Regions from separate parts of the Homo sapiens genome. Here regions 1 and 3 are each linked to region 2. The links come from fine-mapping of genetic effects on gene expression. A gene starts in region 2. Each other region holds a variant in brackets. All regions are shown on one strand. Distances are between the middles of the regions.

What was found. PIP is the estimated chance that this variant, and not a neighbour inherited with it, causes the effect. A credible set is the group of variants that fine-mapping cannot tell apart.
Region 1: its variant is the best candidate, but not a certain one, in a credible set for the expression of BAHCC1 in whole blood (INTERVAL, PIP 0.84).
Region 3: its variant is the best candidate, but not a certain one, in a credible set for the expression of BAHCC1 in whole blood (TOPMed, PIP 0.81).

The regions. Positions count from the first base shown.
Region 1 is chr17:81,309,805-81,315,719 of GRCh38, forward strand. TMEM105 (TMEM105 long non-coding RNA) reads right to left here. Exons shown (of 3, transcript NR_165247.1): 2 at 4,604-4,677; 3 at 1,461-4,181. Among named protein-coding and RNA genes, the nearest start is that of LINC00482, 3.5 kb to the left of the region's middle. The variant A/G (reference allele first, on the strand shown) is at 3,459.
Region 2 is chr17:81,392,257-81,398,171 of GRCh38, forward strand. It overlaps BAHCC1 (BAH domain and coiled-coil containing 1), which reads left to right and starts at 3,201. Exons shown (of 28, transcript NM_001377448.1): 1 at 3,201-3,379. RefSeq lists enhancers at 1,298-1,855, 3,939-4,547, 4,548-5,156 and a silencer at 1,644-1,913.
Region 3 is chr17:81,441,298-81,447,212 of GRCh38, forward strand. It overlaps BAHCC1 (BAH domain and coiled-coil containing 1), which reads left to right. Exons shown (of 28, transcript NM_001377448.1): 5 at 534-2,267; 6 at 2,512-2,620; 7 at 3,084-3,271; 8 at 3,371-3,529; 9 at 3,718-3,881; 10 at 4,057-4,384; 11 at 5,739-5,915. Among named protein-coding and RNA genes, the nearest start is that of MIR3186, 6.9 kb to the right of the region's middle. The variant C/T (reference allele first, on the strand shown) is at 2,920.

The DNA.
Region 1 (5,915 bases), 82 kb before region 2:
GCAGAGGGTCTCCCCGAGAAGGTGCACCCCAGGCAGGGCTTATCCACATACCACTAGGCTGGGGGCCCTGCTCCGGGGGGTTGGGGTGGCTGGAACCTTAGATGGTCCCATCCTGTTGGGGGGCTTCCTGGGCCGCTTTGCTGCTCCCAACTGTGGAAGGTTCTCTCTTGCCTTCCCTTTCCTGCTGTTAGAAGCACCCCAGCCCCTCCAGGCAGCCCCCAGGGCCCGAGTGATGAATCACTGACTTCTTGCCAGGCTCCGGTCGTGATGCGGGGTGGCAGAGGGATGTGGGCAACGCAGCTGGGAGTCCCGGGGCACAGCCGGGCTCTCTCCAGGCTCCCCATCCAGCAGCTGCGCACCCCCCCAAACACACGCCGGGCTCCCCGCACCCGGAAGCTGCCCACAACCGGCAGGACAGGTCGGTGGGCCCCGGGGAGGAATGCAGGAATGCTGCGTGCCCAGGCGAGGGGCCCTGCGCCCGCCCAAGGGGCTCTCCAGCTGCGCAGGGGCCGGGGCGGATGGAGCCGGGGTAATTAAAGCTGGTGACAGCTGAGGAGGGATAGAGACAGGAACACAGGTGGGGTCCCAGGCCCCTCCGCTTGCTCCCCAGGCAGAGGGCTGGAGCGGCCCCCAGGAGAGTGCCACCTTCGTGGGGCAGGAAGAGAAGGTTGCAGGGGCACTGGGTGTCAGTGGACATTGAGGTCTAGGAGAGGCCAGCTCTCAGCTGCAAAGGGCAGGCAGAGTCACCATGTGCCGGGCCTGGCCGGGCCCTCCCAGTTCCCATCCAGACACCCAGACACCCAGACACCCAGACACTGGTCTCGTCCAGGCCATCACGTGGTCAGGAATGGTGTCTGCCTTTGATAGGTGAGGACCCGGGTGCTGTAGGATCTGCTGCTCTAAATGAAGGCAGGCGGTGCTGCCCCAGCGGGAGGACAGCAGCTCCAGGCCTGACAAGGCTCTAGGCCTCAGCTTCCTTATCTCTCCCGAGCCCAGGTTGACATCCCTTTCCCACCTTCCACAGCCAGAGGACTAGACAAGTGTCTTCACCGGAGCCTCGTTTCCTCATCTGAAATATAGCGCTAACCACCCCTCCCTCCCGTGGCTGTGGCAATAAATTAAATGAAGCCCACAGAGGACCTAGCACACAGTACGTGCTTAATCAATACAGAACCCCTCCCCCAGCACTGCCCGCCCTTCCCCTGGAAGCAGCCACGCTTACCTCCACCACCTCCTCTCCATGGTCATCAAACACTCGTGACAGGCCGGCCTCCCCCTGCTGAGACCCTGAGAGGTCCAGGCCTCTGCTCCTCGTCTCTGCCACGCCTGGTGTCATGAGGGTGAAACAGGCCCTTGGGGGACGTTCGGACTGGCTTCCTGTGATGGCCGCCAGCATTAGTAGCGTTGTTACTGCTGCCTGGACACACACAGACGCCTCACAGAGCAATGCAACATGTGGGTGAAGTTTTCAGATAAAATCGGAGATTTAATAGAATTCCCGCAGGGTGCTGAGCTCCAAACCCAGGCCACACATGGCACACGCAGGGCCTGTCAGGGCTGGGGCTGATGACCAGGGTCAAGGGGATCCCAGGGCCCTCCAGCTCTCCCCCAGCTCCTGATGTGGAGGGGAGGGAACTCCCGCTCACCCCCAGAGAGAAGGGAGTCCACACACCGCATCTGAGCTGGCGGTGGGCAGGGTACCCACCTCGGTGAGCAGCCTGGGGTGGGCCTGGGGTCAGGCTGAGGTCCCGGTGACAAAGGCTGGGGAGGTGGATGCAGACAGCCTCCACTTTCACCATGGCCTCCCTCCTCTGAGGCCAGGCCTGGGATGCTTCTGCCCCACAGCTCCGGTCCACCTGCCAGGCCTGTCCGTCCTTGGATGAGGGCAGGGAGAGGTGGGGTGGCCACTGGCAAGTAGAGACTTCAAAAGTGCACGGTGGCCCTTCCACGCCCTTTGCTTCTTAGCCCCCAACCCTCTGCCAGGCTTTCTCCCTTTTTCCCACGCCCCGCACAGACAGGTATCCTGCCCTCAGCATCTCACAGGGGTGAGTGGCAGCCAGGAGCAGCAGCAGATGCCTGTGGGGAGATGAGACGCCCTCAGCTCCCAGGCCCCGCTCCTGGGGAAAAACAGGGCCCCAGGAAGGTGCCCCAACCGTTCCTGGGGGCCCCAGCCCCGAACAGGGGGTCTTGAAAGGGAACTCTTGTGTGGTGAGTGCCCCCTGAGGGCTGAGCCACAAGGTCACCTTGATTTCTCAGCGGACGGAGGCTGAGCTGGCTAGGGTTCCAGGCTGGGTGTGGGAGGGTCACCCCAACAGGCGATGCCCGAGAGGTGTCCGGGCCTGGCTTTCCACGAGGAAGAACCAGTCCCCTGTGCCATCTGCAGGGCTTGCCACACAATCTGGGGACCCGGTGCAGGAGGAGAATTCCTGGCCACTTGTTTAGGAGGCAGGAAAAGGGCCGGGCGCGGTGGCTCACACCTGTAATCCCAGTGCTTTGAGAGGCCGAGGCGGGTGTATCAGGAGTTTGAGATCAGCCTGGCCAACATGGTGAAACCCCGTCTCTACTAAAAATACAAAAATTAACCGGGTGTGGTGGTGCACTTCTGTAGTCCCAGCTACTCGGGAGGCTGAGGCAGGAGAATCGCTTGAACCTGGGAGTCGGAAGTTGCAGTAAGCCAAGATCGCACCACTGCACTCCAGCCTGGGTGACAGAGCAAGACTCTGCCTCAAAAAACAACAACAAAAACCCGCAAGTTCAGAGGTAAAATGATTAAGAATTTCAGGACAGCCTTAGCCACAGGCCCCTCTGATGCCAGGCCCTGGGCAACTGCCCTCCTCACCACCCATGCAGCCGGTCCGTTTCTCGGTAAAGACTTTTCTAGAAGTGTCAGCTATGGGTCAAGGCTTGGGAGAGGGGCCAAGAGAAGACCTAGCGGATGGCAGGAAGAGGCACCTGCTGAGCTTTGGGAAGTTCCCTTAGGGCTGATGTGGGGGCTTCCCTGCTGGGCGGCAGACCACATAGCTGTGCGGGTTCTTCTTCAGCCAAGAATCATGCATGGCTCCTGCCACTGTGTGGGACGGAACCCCGTGACCAGGAGTGGGGTCTCCTGGCAGGCAGCACACCCCACGATGCCCCCCAGGAAGCCGAGTTTGTAACTCCTCCTGTTAAGGGAGCCCTGTGGTCAGGGCCAGGACCCTCCCTCCTCTTGAAGATGCCAGCAGAGCCCTGGCTTGCAAGAACTTGATGTGTGCGTTTGCCTGACCGGGAGTCAGGCGACTGGTGTGTCCTGGACACCTGCGAACCAGGCAGACGCTTCTTCACCGGGAGCTCCGGCCCCGGTGGGGCTGGGGCTGGGGCTGGGGCTGGCCTCCCACCTGTTTGGTAGCGGTAGCATCATCTCAGCCAGCACTCAAGTACGTGACAAAGTCATGCAGAGCTGGCAGGGGAGGCACAGGAAG[A/G]CCCTGTGGTCCCGGGCTACCAGAATTCTGTTTGGGGGATATGGGGTCGCTCCTGGCAGAGGTGGGGGGCATGGGAAGCTGAGCTGTTTTCCCTCGAACGTCTGCTGAAAGTTTTCTGAACAGTTCCATACCTCGTTGTAAGATCAGAGCTTGCCAGCTGAAAATGAAGGACATTCACTGTTTCAGGAGGTGGCCGGGGTGGCTGCTGAGGCCTCCGACCTCCCTCCTGCAGAGGCCACAGGCTGAGTGGGTCCCCACATTGGCCCTGTCTGGCCCTGTCTGCACCGGTGATCTGAGGACCCTGCCACCGTCAGGAGAGAACTCTGAGTCCGAGAATCTAAAGTTGACTTAAGAGGTGAAAAACACGATGAGGAGGAAGAGATGGCAGTCACCTCCCTCTAATCCCTGCACCCCGGCCCCACAGCCCCTTCATCCTCACCACCCCGCAGGCTGCCAGCGAGAGGGAGGAGGGAACCAGGTGCAGCCCCCCTGCAAGAAAGCCAGACTGCCCCCAGGCAGGCCCTTCATGTCTTCGCCTTCTTATCTTCATCTCACAGAGGCAGCTGGGCTCAGCACAGTCCCCCCAAGGAGACCGAGGTGGGGACCCCTGGGGAGACGTCCTCGGGCCCTGCAGCAGGGTGGGGGGCCGGAGCCAGGCTGTGAACAAAGACCAGGTAAGGAGATAAATCAGCTGCCCGATCACATTTCCTGCCCTGAAAGCTCCTGTAAAACATGAGAGAAAATTGACCTGTCAGGGGAATAGATGGGCCCAGATAGTGGCCGCCCGCCCCGGGCCAGCTTCCCTCCACCCATCCCACCTGCACAGAGCGCCCCTGCCCGGCCTGGGCAACCCCAGAGGGAACCCAGGCCCGGGGAGAGGTGGCCCCCATCCAGGCCTCCTGTGGGGGCTCTGCTCCCAGCCCCCACCCTTTGCATGCCCCTGACAGACGAGGCCCAGCTGCTCAAGCCCATCAGGCTATAAAACGGATGGAGACCAGGGGCGGTGTCAGCAGACAGCTAGAGTACCTTTTAAAAAATGTAATCTCTTTTTATTTCCCTCCCCTGCCCTCCCTCCTCCCTCCAGACCATAACCTCCCCGCCACCCCTCCCCTCTTCCTGCGCAGCCCTGACCTTGGTGCACAGACCTTGGTGTGGGGTGGCCGGAGGCTTCAAGGACGCCCTCCTCACCTTGAGAAGCATCGGGCTCAGCCAAGCTAGCCTGTGGGGGCAGGGAGAGAGGGAAGCAGAGCTGATGTGGACAGGCTGTACCCCCCCCAAGGTGACCCCACCACCTGCAACTCCCCCAGCACCGGGGTGGCCTGGGAGTGCCAGACGGGGCCCCTGCCTGAGGAACAGGATGGGAGGCCTCTGCAGTCAGCTCCTCCACATGACGGAGGGGCACCTCTGGCCTCCCGGGGCCGCACAGAGCCAGGCTGGCCTCCAGCTCAAATGTTCCTCACCCAATCCCGCCGCAGAGCCTCCACTCTCTCTCAGCCCATCTTATGGCTGAGGCCAGGGAGGTCGGCAGGCTCGGGAGACTACCTGGTGTCCTGTTAGTGGACACCATGCAGGGCCTGGGACCCCAGCTCTGCCTGGTCCCCACGCCCAGGCCCTGCCAGCCCTACAGTAGTACCACGTTAGAGCCCCGGCCTGCAGGGGCCATGCTGTGACGGCGGGTCCTCAAGCGGAGGGCTCCCAGCTGCCGCCAGTCAGAGGCATCAGGCTGCCTCAGGGAAGTCCCTTCTCCAATGCCTCTTTGGCCGCACAGGGAGCCCCTGTGTGTCCCCCGCCCCCCAGGGTCTCTGCTGGACAAGAGGCTGCAGCAGCCGACCGGGGCCAAATGCATCTTCTTCATCCTCCCTCAGGCTCAGCTGGGAAGGAAGGTGCTGAGAGGAGGGGAGGTGGCCTCTGAGCTCACTCAGGCCTCCCCAGCCACCCAACACTGCCTCCAGGTCCCGTGGGCTGCCCAGCTGGCCCCAGGGGACAGCCGAGTCCATCCACTGGCACACGCCGGAGTCTGACCAGTAACCAGGCCTGACCAGCCGACCCTTCCCCTCCATCCCCTCCTGAACAATGGCTCTTTCAGCACATGGGCAAGAGGCCACTGGCCAGCAGGAGCAGGCAGATGACTGACAGGGCCAGAGGGAGTGGGAAAGAGGCTGGAGCTCCAGCCCAGGGGTGGCGGGCAGCCAGGGAGGGCAGCCACGCGCCATCCTTAGGGCTGGGGGCCGACAGAGGGTCCCTGAGGGTTGGGAGAGTAGGGAGGACCCAGGGCCTGGGGTGGTGACAGGGCACAGGTTGAGGAGCGTTGCGCAGGGCAGGGTTGGGTTGCACCCACGCTCTCCCCAGCACCTGGCAGCTCCCCGAGGCTGAGGCCTCTGGGGCCCCAGAGCTGCCCAGGTCTTCTCGGCTTCCCGGCCTCAGCCTCCCCTCACCCTGCCCTGCCCTGCCCCAGGC
Region 2 (5,915 bases):
AAAAAAGCCCACTAGAATTTGCTTCAAGTGAACACTGGGGGAGGAGGAGGCAGAAGTGGGGAGGAAGGAGGAGGGCAGGGAGCTTCCGCACTGCCCTGGAAGGCGCACTCGACGCCTCGGGGCCTTTGCCCACGCGAGCAGCCTCTTTCGGGGACACGAAGGGACCAGCACTTGGGGGATTTGAAGCCAGTGCTCATCCTAGGAATCTGGTGAGGCTGAGCCAGAAGGGTCTAAACCAGCTTGAGGAGATAGGGGCCACGCACCCGCGAGCTACCCTCTGCCCTCCCATGTCCCTGGCAGTGGGCATTTCTCAAATGGTGATTGATGACTGGGGATGGGGGTGGGCAAGCCGAGGGCCCATCATTCAGGCTCCAGGACCCTCGAACAATCTGCCCACGGGGGAGGGGAGGCTGGTTTAGGGGCTCTGAGGGGCCTTTCCAGCGGCTGTCCTTCCAACACACTCTAGAGGAGACCAGGACTCCCAGGGGCTTGGGGCCTCCCGTTCCCCCACAGGGCGGTTAGAGGTGGAGCACCTGCCCTGATGCGAGGAGCTCAGAGCAACTTCTGGGACACCACGGGTGGCCACGGTGTTCTTTTTGTTGCATCCAAGATTTTTCTCGTATACGTATTTTCCTATATTAAAAAATTCAAATGAGGCTTTAAAAATTAACTTGAAAAAGGTTCCTGATCCGGAAACAGGCTCATCGGAGGCAGTGATGGGAACTCGGTTCCTTAGGAGAGTAGGAAATGCGCCGTCTGCGAGGGGCGCCCTGCGTGGACCCGGGGCCTCGGGGCGCGTCCACTTACCCGAGCCAGGAGAGACTGGGCCCCACGGTGTTAGCCCCGCGCTCGGGCTCGCGCGCCGCTTCCAGCTCGCGCCTCCTCCATCCCCGGAGGGCTCCGCGGGTCCCCGGCGACGGGTCCCTGCCCAGGGTCCGGGAACCTTCCCCTCCCCTCCTTTCTCAAGCGCCATTTCTCCGGAGCCGGGCCGGCCGTCCTCGGTGTACGCGGGAAGCGGGCAGCCTCCGCCTGCACCCGCGGGGCCGGGACCCGGAGGCACCCGCTTCCCCGACACACTCGCTGGGGCCGCTGCTCGCTGCTCCAGCCTCCCGAGGCCACGGCAAGAGCCCGGGGGTCGGCGCCACACACCCCCAGCCGGCGACCGCGCCCAGGGACCTAATTCAATCGCCCCCAGCCTAATGAATAGCCGCGCGCTAATCGGATCTCCGCGCGCTTCGGGGATTTACGCTTCCCGGCTCTCCCCCTCGTGCCCCGCGGCCCGCCAGACGTCGCTTCCGAAGGCGCCGGCCTGGGGCCTGGCCAGGGGCTCGGCCGCGGGGGGTCCCGGCCGCCGGAGCCGGGAGACGCCGGAGACGGGAGCCGGGCCCGCGCGACCGCCACTCCCGAGCCAGCCGGGGTGGGCCCCGCGCCTTGTCCTGCGTCCCCGGCCCGGCCCGCGGAGCGCCGGTGCTTACCTGCGAGCCCCGGGCTCTCCGGAGCTCCCCTCCGGGCCGAGCCGCCCGAAGCGGGCGCCGGCGTAGGCCCCGACTCAGGCAGGCGGGAAATCCCGGAGTCCCCGCCCGCGGCCCGCAGCCCCCCACCCCAGGTCGGCGTGGCCTGCGGGGGGGAAGGCCGGCCGGGGCCGGCCGCCCGCTTCCCCTTTCTCTCCAGATTCCTTTGATCCGCGGGCTCTCCGCCGCACCTCGGCTCCCGGGCTGCCCCGGTCGGCCCGCGGGGATCCTGGAAACGGTCCCCAGCTTATCTCCTTTCATCAAGCGGCCTTGGGCCGCCTTGAAACCGCGGAGCCAGTAATTGCTTTTTTCAGGAGGCCCAGTGCGGACTGGACAACAGCCAATCAGCGCCTTGTTTACACTCGGTGATGGACAGTCCACTGGCGGAGTGCCAACCAATCCCAGCGGTCCCGCGGGAGCGGGAGTGGGGGCGGGGAAACAGAGAGACAACAGGCTTTGAGTTTAACTCTTTCGTGTCCCTGCCGGAATGAGACGGTGGAGAATTTCGAATGCGTGTGAATCTGTCAGTTGGCTCCTAGTTTAAATATCCTTTTTTCCCCCAGAGGGGGAGGCAGAGATTCACATGGAGAAAGAGGAGCAAAAATAAATGTATCCATCGCCACTAAGACATCACCTCGACTCCCTGAGAATAAATAGCATTTGGGTGGGAAACCAAATTCTAACAGAAATATTTGTTTGCGGAATATTTTAGAAGTGGTTTGCATCTGATTACGATAAAAATTGTTCAGTGGCTTGCTTTAGTTGGAGTGAGGATTTAGCAGATAGGCAGACAGGGAGCAGCATTGAGAAATACTATACATGGTTTACCACACCATACCCGCTTCCCCCATTACCAAACTGAAAATATTTTCTAAATCTAGGTGTAGATGAAGAAAGGGCAATCCTTGTCTTCTCAATAAATCCCTGATTTTCATTTTAGTAGCTGCTCTGTTGCAAAGTGTGGCAGAGGGAGATAAAATTGAGAGCCAGTAATGTAGACGGCTGGAGACTCAGAACTCACTTCCCAGGGTCTGATCCCCAGGTCATGGGGAGGAGAGAGCCGGACGGGCTATTCAAAGCTTTTGCTGCCCAAGCAGCGGGCGTGCGTGCGTGCATCCGCGAGCTCGGGTCCGGGCAGGCAGCAGCTTCAGAGCGGTAGATGGGCCAGGCAACCTGGGGAGGCCTCTGGGCTTGGAGGTCTGGCCTACCTGCCACCTGCCAGACAGATTCCAGGGAGAAAAAGCAGCTACTTTTAAGGGGTGGTGGTGTTTCTTCCCTTGGCCTTCTGTGCGGCAGAAGCCAAACGTTAGACCTGCTGGATTAAACATATATGTGTGTGTGTGTGTCTGTGTCTGTGTCTACGCCTCCCCCTCCGCCGGGACACGCGCACTCGCTCGCTCCAGCTCCCTCTCCCGCCCTGCGCCACCACATTCCCATTCAGCAGCAATGATCTGCGCAGAGGAGCTGCGCAGTCGCCGGGCTTGAATTAGGCGCCATCGGGCTTGGTAGTAGCCCCGCTGCTTCCTGATTGGCAGTTCCCTGGCCCGGCGCCAGCCTATTGGGAGGCCTGTTTACGCCGAATGAGTGGCACGAGCTCCCGGCCGTGGAGGGCTGCGCGGCCAATCAGCGCGCTGGCTGTTCCGGGCTGAGTGGCACGAGCTTATTAGTATGCAGGGCCCGTGGCTCGCCGCGCCAGGCTGCAGGTTTGAGAGCCGCTCTGGATGGGCTCGCTAGAGTCGTTGTTGTGGAAGCGGTGCATTTACAGTGCAACAGTCAGCACATTGAAAATACCAATAGGAATACAAAACAAAGTCACATTTACTGATTTAATTGTATTGCATTCAGTTGTATCCAGGAAACAGCCTCCAGTAAGTAACTGAAATTGCTTTCATTTTTTTTTTGTTTTTGTATTTTTATTATTATTTTATTTTTTATTCTGGCTTTGGGGTTTTACATTTTTTTTAGCAAAAGAAATTCAGGATTGTGATGTTAAGAAGTATATATCTTCCCTTTTAACAAAATCCGTTAAAATGTTGAGGCTTTTTTTTTTCTTAAAAAATATGGACTATGAGCGATTTTTTTTTCTCTGAAAAATCTTATCGATCGGTTTAAAATTACCCCCGTAATGCATCCTTGCTTTGCTCTGAGCGCTTGTTGTCTCGATCGACACCCAGCATTAAAAACAAATACTCGAAGACAGGACAGGGACCGCCAGGCTGCGTCTGGCGCGAGCCGCGCGGGTGGCACCGGGCGGACAGTAGGCGAAGTCCGGGCGCCGCCAGCGTGCGCCCAGTTCTGGGTGACCCACGAACGAACCCCAACATTCGCTCCCCTACCCTGCTCCCCTCCCCGGAACAGTCCTGGGTTGGCCCTGCCCGGTCGGTCCGCGGCGAGGGGAACTGGCCGGGTCGTGGTACCCACGGCCGCTGCCCTGAGGGGCCTTCCGGGCCGAAGCTAGGGGCCGGGGAGGGGAATGGTCATGGCGAGTTTTTCGGGTCTTCGTTCCCAATTCAGAATTTTTTTTTTCCGGAGAAGTGGGGGTGGAGGAGGGGGACCGAGCAAGGCCGGCGCAGCGGGGCGTTTTCACCGCGCGCGTTCGGGACGGCGCGCGGGGCTCGGGTCACGGCCCGTGTGGCGGGGTCCGCGGGCTGGTTTTCTTCGGGCGCGGGGGTCAGGCGCGACCCCAGTTCTCATGACTCTCCCAGGGAGCGGGTGCGGCTGTTTCGCAGGGAGCGGGTTCTGCGGCGACGGCCGAGCCACTCGCGCCCCAAGGCGCGCCTGGTCCCAGCCCGGCCTGCAGGCCCCACCGCGCCCGCGCTCCCGGAGACGACGCCGGAGGGAGGCAGACGGGCCAGAGTCCTGGTCTCCGGCAGGCGGGCGAGGAGAGAGCGGGTTTTTAGATGCAAAAGCAGGAAACAAAGCAAACTTGTAGAAGCTCCAGATCCTGGAGCGCGCCAGCCACGCCTGGGGCCGCGGCAAGAGGGACCGGCGGCTCCAGGGTCACGCCCTGCCTTCCCGGGAGGGAGCCCTGTGCTCCTAGGTTCAGTTCCTTCCGAAATGCCCTCGTCAGCGATTCTCCGCCCGCCCGGGGCCCTCTGCCCGCCGCCACTTTTCGCTCCATTTCCTCCCTTACCTCAGCCCGACCTGGCGCTGCGGCGCCGTCCTCGCGGTCCTCCGGCGCGGCCTCTCCTGGAGCTGGGCTGGGAGTGGGCCCCGGGCCTCGGCACTCGGCGGGTGGCGGCGTCGCCGCTGCGGGACTGTGGGACTCCCAGCTCGGGCCGTGTGGCCGCCCTTCCTCGCCCCACTTCCTGGCCGCCTCAGGCTCCCCAGGCCCCCGAAGCCCGGCGCGGGCAGACGCGGAGGCGCGGCGCGGCCTCTCCCCGGGAGGAGAGAACACAAAGAAAAGCTCTCTCCAATCCGGTCAGAGCCGTGGCGGCGCAGGCAGGCGACAGTAATCCACCTCCTGTTTGCTTAAAAAGTCGAGCAGGCTGGTGAGAAAGGAACAATCGGGCCTGCGATCCGCCCGCAGGGGGTGGGAGATTAAAATTGTTGCTTCGTAGCCGAGCCCGCGTCCCGAGAATCGCCGGCAGCTCGCGCTTTCTCAACTTTGAAATTTCTTATTGGAGAGAAAAAAAAAAAAAAAAACAACCACAAAACAAAAGCACAGCACACACGACTCCCTGGAGGCCGCCAGGAAGCCTGGCACCCCCGCGTGCGCAGCCCCCGGCCCCTCTCCGGCCTTCGGCGCCTTTGAAGCTGCAGGTTTCTGACCTCCCTCCCTTTCCTTCTTTCCCTTTGTCCCGCCCGGCGCCCTCCGGGGCTCGGGAGGCGCCGGCCGGGGCTGGGGGCCCCCACGTCCCTAGTCCAGCCCGGGCAGCCCCTCCCCTGACCCCTGCGCTCGCAGCCCCCTCGCCAGAGCACTCTCCGGGCCCTGGCGGCCGGGCGCTCGCTTTGCAGGCCGGGATCGGGGCTTGGGAGCCGAGCTATTTGTTAGACCCGGGGAGAGAGCTGGCGATCCCCAGAGGGAAGGGAGCCCCAAACGCCTTTGTATGTAGTTGCCAGACAAAGAGAACTCTTTGTGTAGACCCATTTATTTACAATGCAAAAGCTCTCCGAATAAATATTAAAAAAGCTTATCAGCTGAGCAAATATGTATTCACTTAATACATTATGTTTTCGGTTATAGATTAAATCAAACACAAAATAGTCTGCAAATAAGACGTTTTAGAACCCGGACCATAAAATATCGCAATTTAAAAAGGTATTCAGTAGATGGAAAACATCTTAATCGCTTTGTTGTCATGGTGGAATGGCTACAAAAACACAAGGTTTTCCGCAAAGTTCCTAATTAGGAATATCAAGCCTATCCATCTCCCTTTTGTTGGAGGTGATAAACATTAAAAC
Region 3 (5,915 bases), 49 kb after region 2:
TGCCCCTGAACTGTGCACCAAAAATGGGAAATTTTATGTTACCCATATTTCACTACAATTTTATAAAAACAAAAGCAAAAACCAGCCCGGCGCTGTGGCTCACGCCTGTAATCCCAGTACTTTGGGAGGCCAAGGCGGGTGGATCACGAGGTCAGGAGATCGAGACCATCCTGGCTAACATGGTGAAACCCCGTCTCTACTAAAAATACAAAAAGTTAGCTGGGCCTGGTGGCGGGCTCCTGTAGTCCCAGCTACTCGGGAGGCTGAGACAGGAGAATGGCGTGAACCCGGGAGGTGGAGCTTGCAGTGAGCCGAGGTCACGCCACAGCACTGCAGCCTGGGCGACAGAGGGCAGAGCGAGACTCCGTCTCAAAAAAAAAAAAAAAAAAAAAAGAGCAAAAACCTTCCCTAGGCTGTAACCTGGAGTCAGTGCCAGCTGGTGTCCGGGAGGCACCTGGAGCACCTGTCTCAGGGAGTCTTTCTCCAGCCTCACCCCTAAGGCCTCCCATTGACCTTGGCTCTTTCCCACACAGATAACTTCTACCTGCGCAACCTGCCGCCCCAGCCCACGCTGCTGCCGGCCAACCACAACTTCCCCAGCGTGGCCCGGGCCGCCCCTGCCCACCCCATGGGCTCCTGCAGCCGGGATCGAGACCGGGGTGAGGCAGGCTCCCTGCAGAAGGGCCCCAAGGACTTCGACCGCTTCCTCGTGGGCAAAGAGCTGGGCAGAGAGAAGGCGGGCAAGGCCGCTGAGGGCAAGGAGCGGCCAGCGGCAGAGGAGGACGGTGGCAAGGAGCGGCACAAGCTGGTGCTGCCCGTGCCAGCCGACGGGCACTGCAGGGAGGGCGGCCCCGCACCCCGAGGGGCCTGCGAGGGCCGCCCCAAGCACCTCACCTCCTGCCTCCTCAACACCAAGGTGCTCAACGGCGAGATGGGCAGGGCTGCGCTAGCCAGCTGTGCAGGGGGCATGCTGGGGCGGCCTGGCACGGGGGTGGTGACCTCCGGGCGCTGTGCAAAGGAGGCAGCAGGCCCCCCGGAGCCCGGGCCGGCCTTCAGCGAGTGCCTGGAGCGGCGGCAGATGCTACACCACACCGCATCCTACGCCGGGCCACCCCCGCCCCTCAGCACAGCCGCCGGCTCCTTCCCCTGCCTGCAGCTGCACGGGGGCCCTGACGGGCTCTGCCCGCTGCAGGACAAAGCCCCCCGGGACCTAAAGGCCAGCGGGCCCACCTTCGTGCCTTCTGTGGGACACCTGGCCGACAAGGGCCGCCCCTTCCAGGCCGCCGAGGCCTGTGCCGTGGCAGGGGAGGGCAAGGACCGGCACCTGGAGGGAACCATGGCCCCCGACCACGCTGCACCCTATGGAGTCTCCTATGCCCACCTGAAGGCCGAGGGCAAGGGCGAGCGGCGGCCTGGGGGCTTTGAGGCGGCCCTCAACCCCCGGCTAAAGGGCCTCGACTATCTCAGCAGCGCAGGCCCCGAGGCCTCCTTCCCCGGACTCCCTAAAAGCGGTCTGGACAAAAGCGGCTACTTCGAGTTGCCCACCTCTTCACAGGACTGTGCCCGGCCTGGTCACCAGGACCCGCTGGGCGGGAAGGCCCCCCAGGCCTGCTGCACTTTAGATAAGACTGTTGGCAAGGAAGCCCCGGCCGGCCCCCCAGGGGCACAGAAGGTGGCCCGCATCAGGCACCAGCAGCACTTGATGGCCGCCGAGGTGGAGCAGGGGGGCATTGGGGCTGAGGCCAAGCGCAAGTCCCTGGAGCTGGCATCCCTGGGCTACAGTGGGCCCCACCTGCCCCCATGGGGTGTCCAGGCAGGCCAGGGCACCGCCATGGCCATCAGCGAGGAGCGCAAGGCTGGCGCCTACCTGGACCCCTTTGGCAGTGGCCTGCAGCAGGCGGCTCTTCTGCCCCAGGAACTGCCTGCGCCGCCGGACGAGGTCTCAGCCATGAAGAACCTGCTCAAATACAGCAGCCAGGCCCTGGTGGTGGGCCAGAAAGCACCCTTGGTGGGCCTGGGTGGCCTCAAGGCCAGCTGCATCCAGCAGGAAGCAAAGTTCCTGTCCTCTAAGGGCCCAGGCCAGTCGGAGAGGCCGGACTGTGCCCGCAGCAGGGAGCACGACACCACGCACGGCGACGGGGAGGTGCGGCAGCCCCCTGTGGGCATTGCAGTGGCCTTGGCCCGGCAGAAGGACACAGTGAGCCGGTCTGAGGCAGCCTACGGCACCAACACTGCGCGGCAGGGCCGGGCCGCCCCCGCCTTCAAAGGTACAGGCCCTGCACAGAGAGGGAGGCAGGCCGGGACAGTCTAGGGGGCCCAGCTGGCCCTGCCCTGCGCCCCGGCTCCCCAGCTCCCACACCTGCCCTTGGCAGACCCTCCGAGGCCCCAGGACCAGGGGATCCTCCTCAGTGCATCAGGCCCCCCAGCTCGAAGCGGGGTCACTGCTTGCCTTAGCTGGTGGCTCCCTGGCCGCCCCAACCCTCTCCCGTCTGCTGTCTCGACCCTGTGCAGGTGGCGGTGGGCCCCGTTCCACACACGCGCTGGACCTGGAGGCTGAGGAGGAGAGGACGAGGCTATGTGATGACCGCCTGGGGCTTGCCAGCCGCGAGCTGCTGCTGCAGTGAGAGCTGGGCCTGTGGCCCTGGAGAGTGGGGCTAGGCCTGGGCTTGGGGCTCCCCACTCAGAGCCACGTGGAGAAAGAGGGGTGGTCATGGCTGGGGCAGCAGATTCTATGGCCGGCCGTGGGTGGGGTTCTCCCCACCCCTAGAGCCTTTCTGGAGTCTCACCCGGGGTTGGGGGTCTCAGTTAACCCCTTGCAGCGGTCAGGTTACCCACTTTCAGGGGCCAGGAGATGGCCCCCAGTCAGCCCTGCAGAGCACTGAGGCTGGAGCCTGGGGTTTTCCCTGAGCCTCCAGGTCC[C/T]GTTCTCCCTCCCAGGTTGATGGCAGGGGGTGGGACAGGGAGTCAGGCATTGGCACCGTTGGTGGGGCTGAGCCCCAGGTCTTACAGAGACAACAAAGGGCCGGGGGTGGGATGGGGAGCTGGGCCTTGGCGCCGGCGGCAGGGCTGAGCCCCAGGTCTTACAGGGACAGCAAAGACCGCGTAGAGTTCGCCCGGATCCACCCACCGAGCAGCTGCCCTGGGGACCTGGCCCCCCACCTCATGATGCAGAGCGGCCAGCTGGGCGGGGACCCAGCCCCCCACACCCACCCCCATCCCCCCTGGCTGCCCCGCACCCGCAGCCCCTCCCTGTGGATGGGGGGGCACTCCTACGGTCAGTGATCCAAGGGCGGGGGCTGGCCTGGGGCTGATGAGGGTTCCCTCCTGGTCCCCGAGAGTGCGAGGCCTGACCACTGTGCCCTCTGCCTCCCAGGCCTGGGGCACCCTGCCCTGCACCAGAACCTGCCCCCCGGCTTCCCCGCCTCCGTGGCTGGCCCTGTGCCCTCTGTCTTCCCCCTCCCACAGGACGCCCCCACACAGCTGGTCATCCTGCCCTCAGAGCCCACACCCCACAGCGCCCCCCACGCACTTGGTAAGGGCCCCTGGTCCAGGCTGCTGTACTTGGGGGGTGCTGTTGGAAGGAGGGGCAGCCGGGGGTGTGCTGGCCAGGGCTCAGGAGGGAGCGGTGGGCTTGGTGGGCTGAGGAAAGGGTGGCGGGGAAGCAGCCCCGGAGCTGTCCCCTCCCCAGCCAGGCTGACCCCTCCTGGGCCCTGCCCACAGCGGATGTCATGGACCAGGCGTCACTGTGGCCCCCCATGTACGGGGGCCGGGGCCCCGCCTCTCACATGCAGCACCCGGGCCAGCTCCCTGTGTACTCGAGGCCGCAGCTCCTCCGGCAGCAGGAGCTCTATGCTTTGCAGCAGCAGAGGGCCGCCCAGTTCCAGGTACCGCCCCTAGCCACGCTCACCTGGGCCGGGCACTTCTCCCCAACCCTGCCTGGCCGGACCTGGCTCCAGGAGACCCCTGCATGCCTGGCCTCTGGCAGGATGAACCCAAGCAGGGGGCCCACTGGGGTCAGGGGATCCTGAGCCTGACCGAGCTTGCCCCCATCCCTGACAGCGGAAGCCCGAAGACCAGCACCTGGATCTGGAGGAGCCCGCCCAGGAGAAGGCCCCAAAGTCCACCCACAAGCCAGTTGCCTTAACCCCCACGGCCCCGGGCGCCCCCTCACCCGCTGCAGGCCCCACCAAGCTGCCACCTTGCTGCCATCCGCCCGACCCAAAGCCCCCCGCCAGCTCCCCCACCCCACCACCTCGGCCCAGCGCCCCGTGCACTTTAAATGTCTGCCCTGCCAGCAGCCCCGGGCCTGGCTCCCGGGTGCGCAGCGCCGAGGAAAAGAATGGGGAGGGTCAGCAGTCCACGGCCGACATCATCACATCCGAACCAGGTGAGAGTAGCCGCCTGGCCCGGCCCACTGTGCTCCGCTCCAAGCCCTCCCACCCCTGCCCGGCAGGGCTGCGCTGAATCCGGGCTGCCTGCAGGGAGGCGCCACACCTGCCCAGACCCAGGGCAGCATGGCTGTTCCCTTCCTCTCTCTTCCCTCTTCCCAGTCCTCCCAATGACCTTGGGAGAAGCACACAGTGCCCCAGCCGCCCCCTTCCTGGCCGTGGGCTGACGAAGGCGGGAGGAAGACGGGGTCCCGCTGGCTGTCGTAGGGGCCCTCCAGCAATGAAGGCGGGGCCTGCTGGTGGTGGTACTGGCACCCTGGGGGCACTGGGCATGGGACTTGACCAGGCTGCCATTCAGGGTCTCAGCAAAGCTGGGAGAGGGAGGGGCAGCGAGGCGGGGTGCCTGGGTGGGGGGGTCTCGGGCCTGGCCTCGGCCCCTGCCACCCGCCCATCCACTCCCCACCAGCCTATTTGATTCTCTCTGAGTGGGACTGAGAGGTCACACTGGAAACCGTGTGGCGAACATAAAACCCGTCCTAGTTTCACAGTCAGGAGATGGAGCTAGCAGAGGGTTTTTCCGTTTTTTTCCCTTCGTTTTTTTTTTCTTTTTTTTGCAGTTAATGGGACATGATGCCTCTGACATGCTGCCGGCTTGTTCTGGTTCAGGGAAAACCCTGATTAAAGCATCATGTTTTACAAATTCCCCCTTTTCTGGTTACCCACAGCATACCATGCCAGAGATGGCTCCTGAGGCCACCCCCAGCCCCGGCAGCCAGGGTTGTTGGGGGGAGCTTCAAGGCCACTCTTTAGGGGAATGAGGGCCTGGCCTCAGGCTGCTCACACCTTTTTTTTTTTTTTTTTTTTTTTTTTTTTTTTTTTTTTGAGACAGGGTATCTCCCTATGTCGCCCAGTCTGGAGTGCAGTGACGCGAACATGGTTCACTGCAGCCTCGGCCTCCTGGGCTCAAGCCATCCTCCCACCTCAGCCTCCTGTGTAGCTTGGACCACAGGCATGCACCACCACGCCCAGCTCATTGTTCTTTAATTTTTTTGTAGTGGCACGTGCTCACTCTGTTGCCCACGCTGGTCTCGAATTCCTGGCCTCAAATGATCCATCCACCTCAGCCTCCCAAAGTTTTGGGATTACAGGTGTGAGCTACTGCACCCAGCCAGGTTGCCCCCTTAATTAACGTAACCCTTTCCCCGCCACCAGTCTTGCAGACCTGCAGCTAGCCCAGGGCCCTTCCGCACGGGCTTGGGTCTGAGGGTTCGAGGCCACTGTCCTCCGTCCTATCGCAGGACACCCCCTCACCACCACTCCCAGCTCCCTGCTGACCTGTCCCCTCCTTTGCAGACCTGCCTCCCGGATACCTGCGCCCCATGGCTGGCCTGGGCTTCTCCCTACCCTCAGACGTGCACTCTTCTAACCTCGAGGACCCTGAAACTATGCAAACCACCGCCCCGGGGGCCCAGCCTGAGCCCACAAGGACATTCCTGCCTGGGGAGCCGCCTCCCTGCAGCCCCAGGAGCC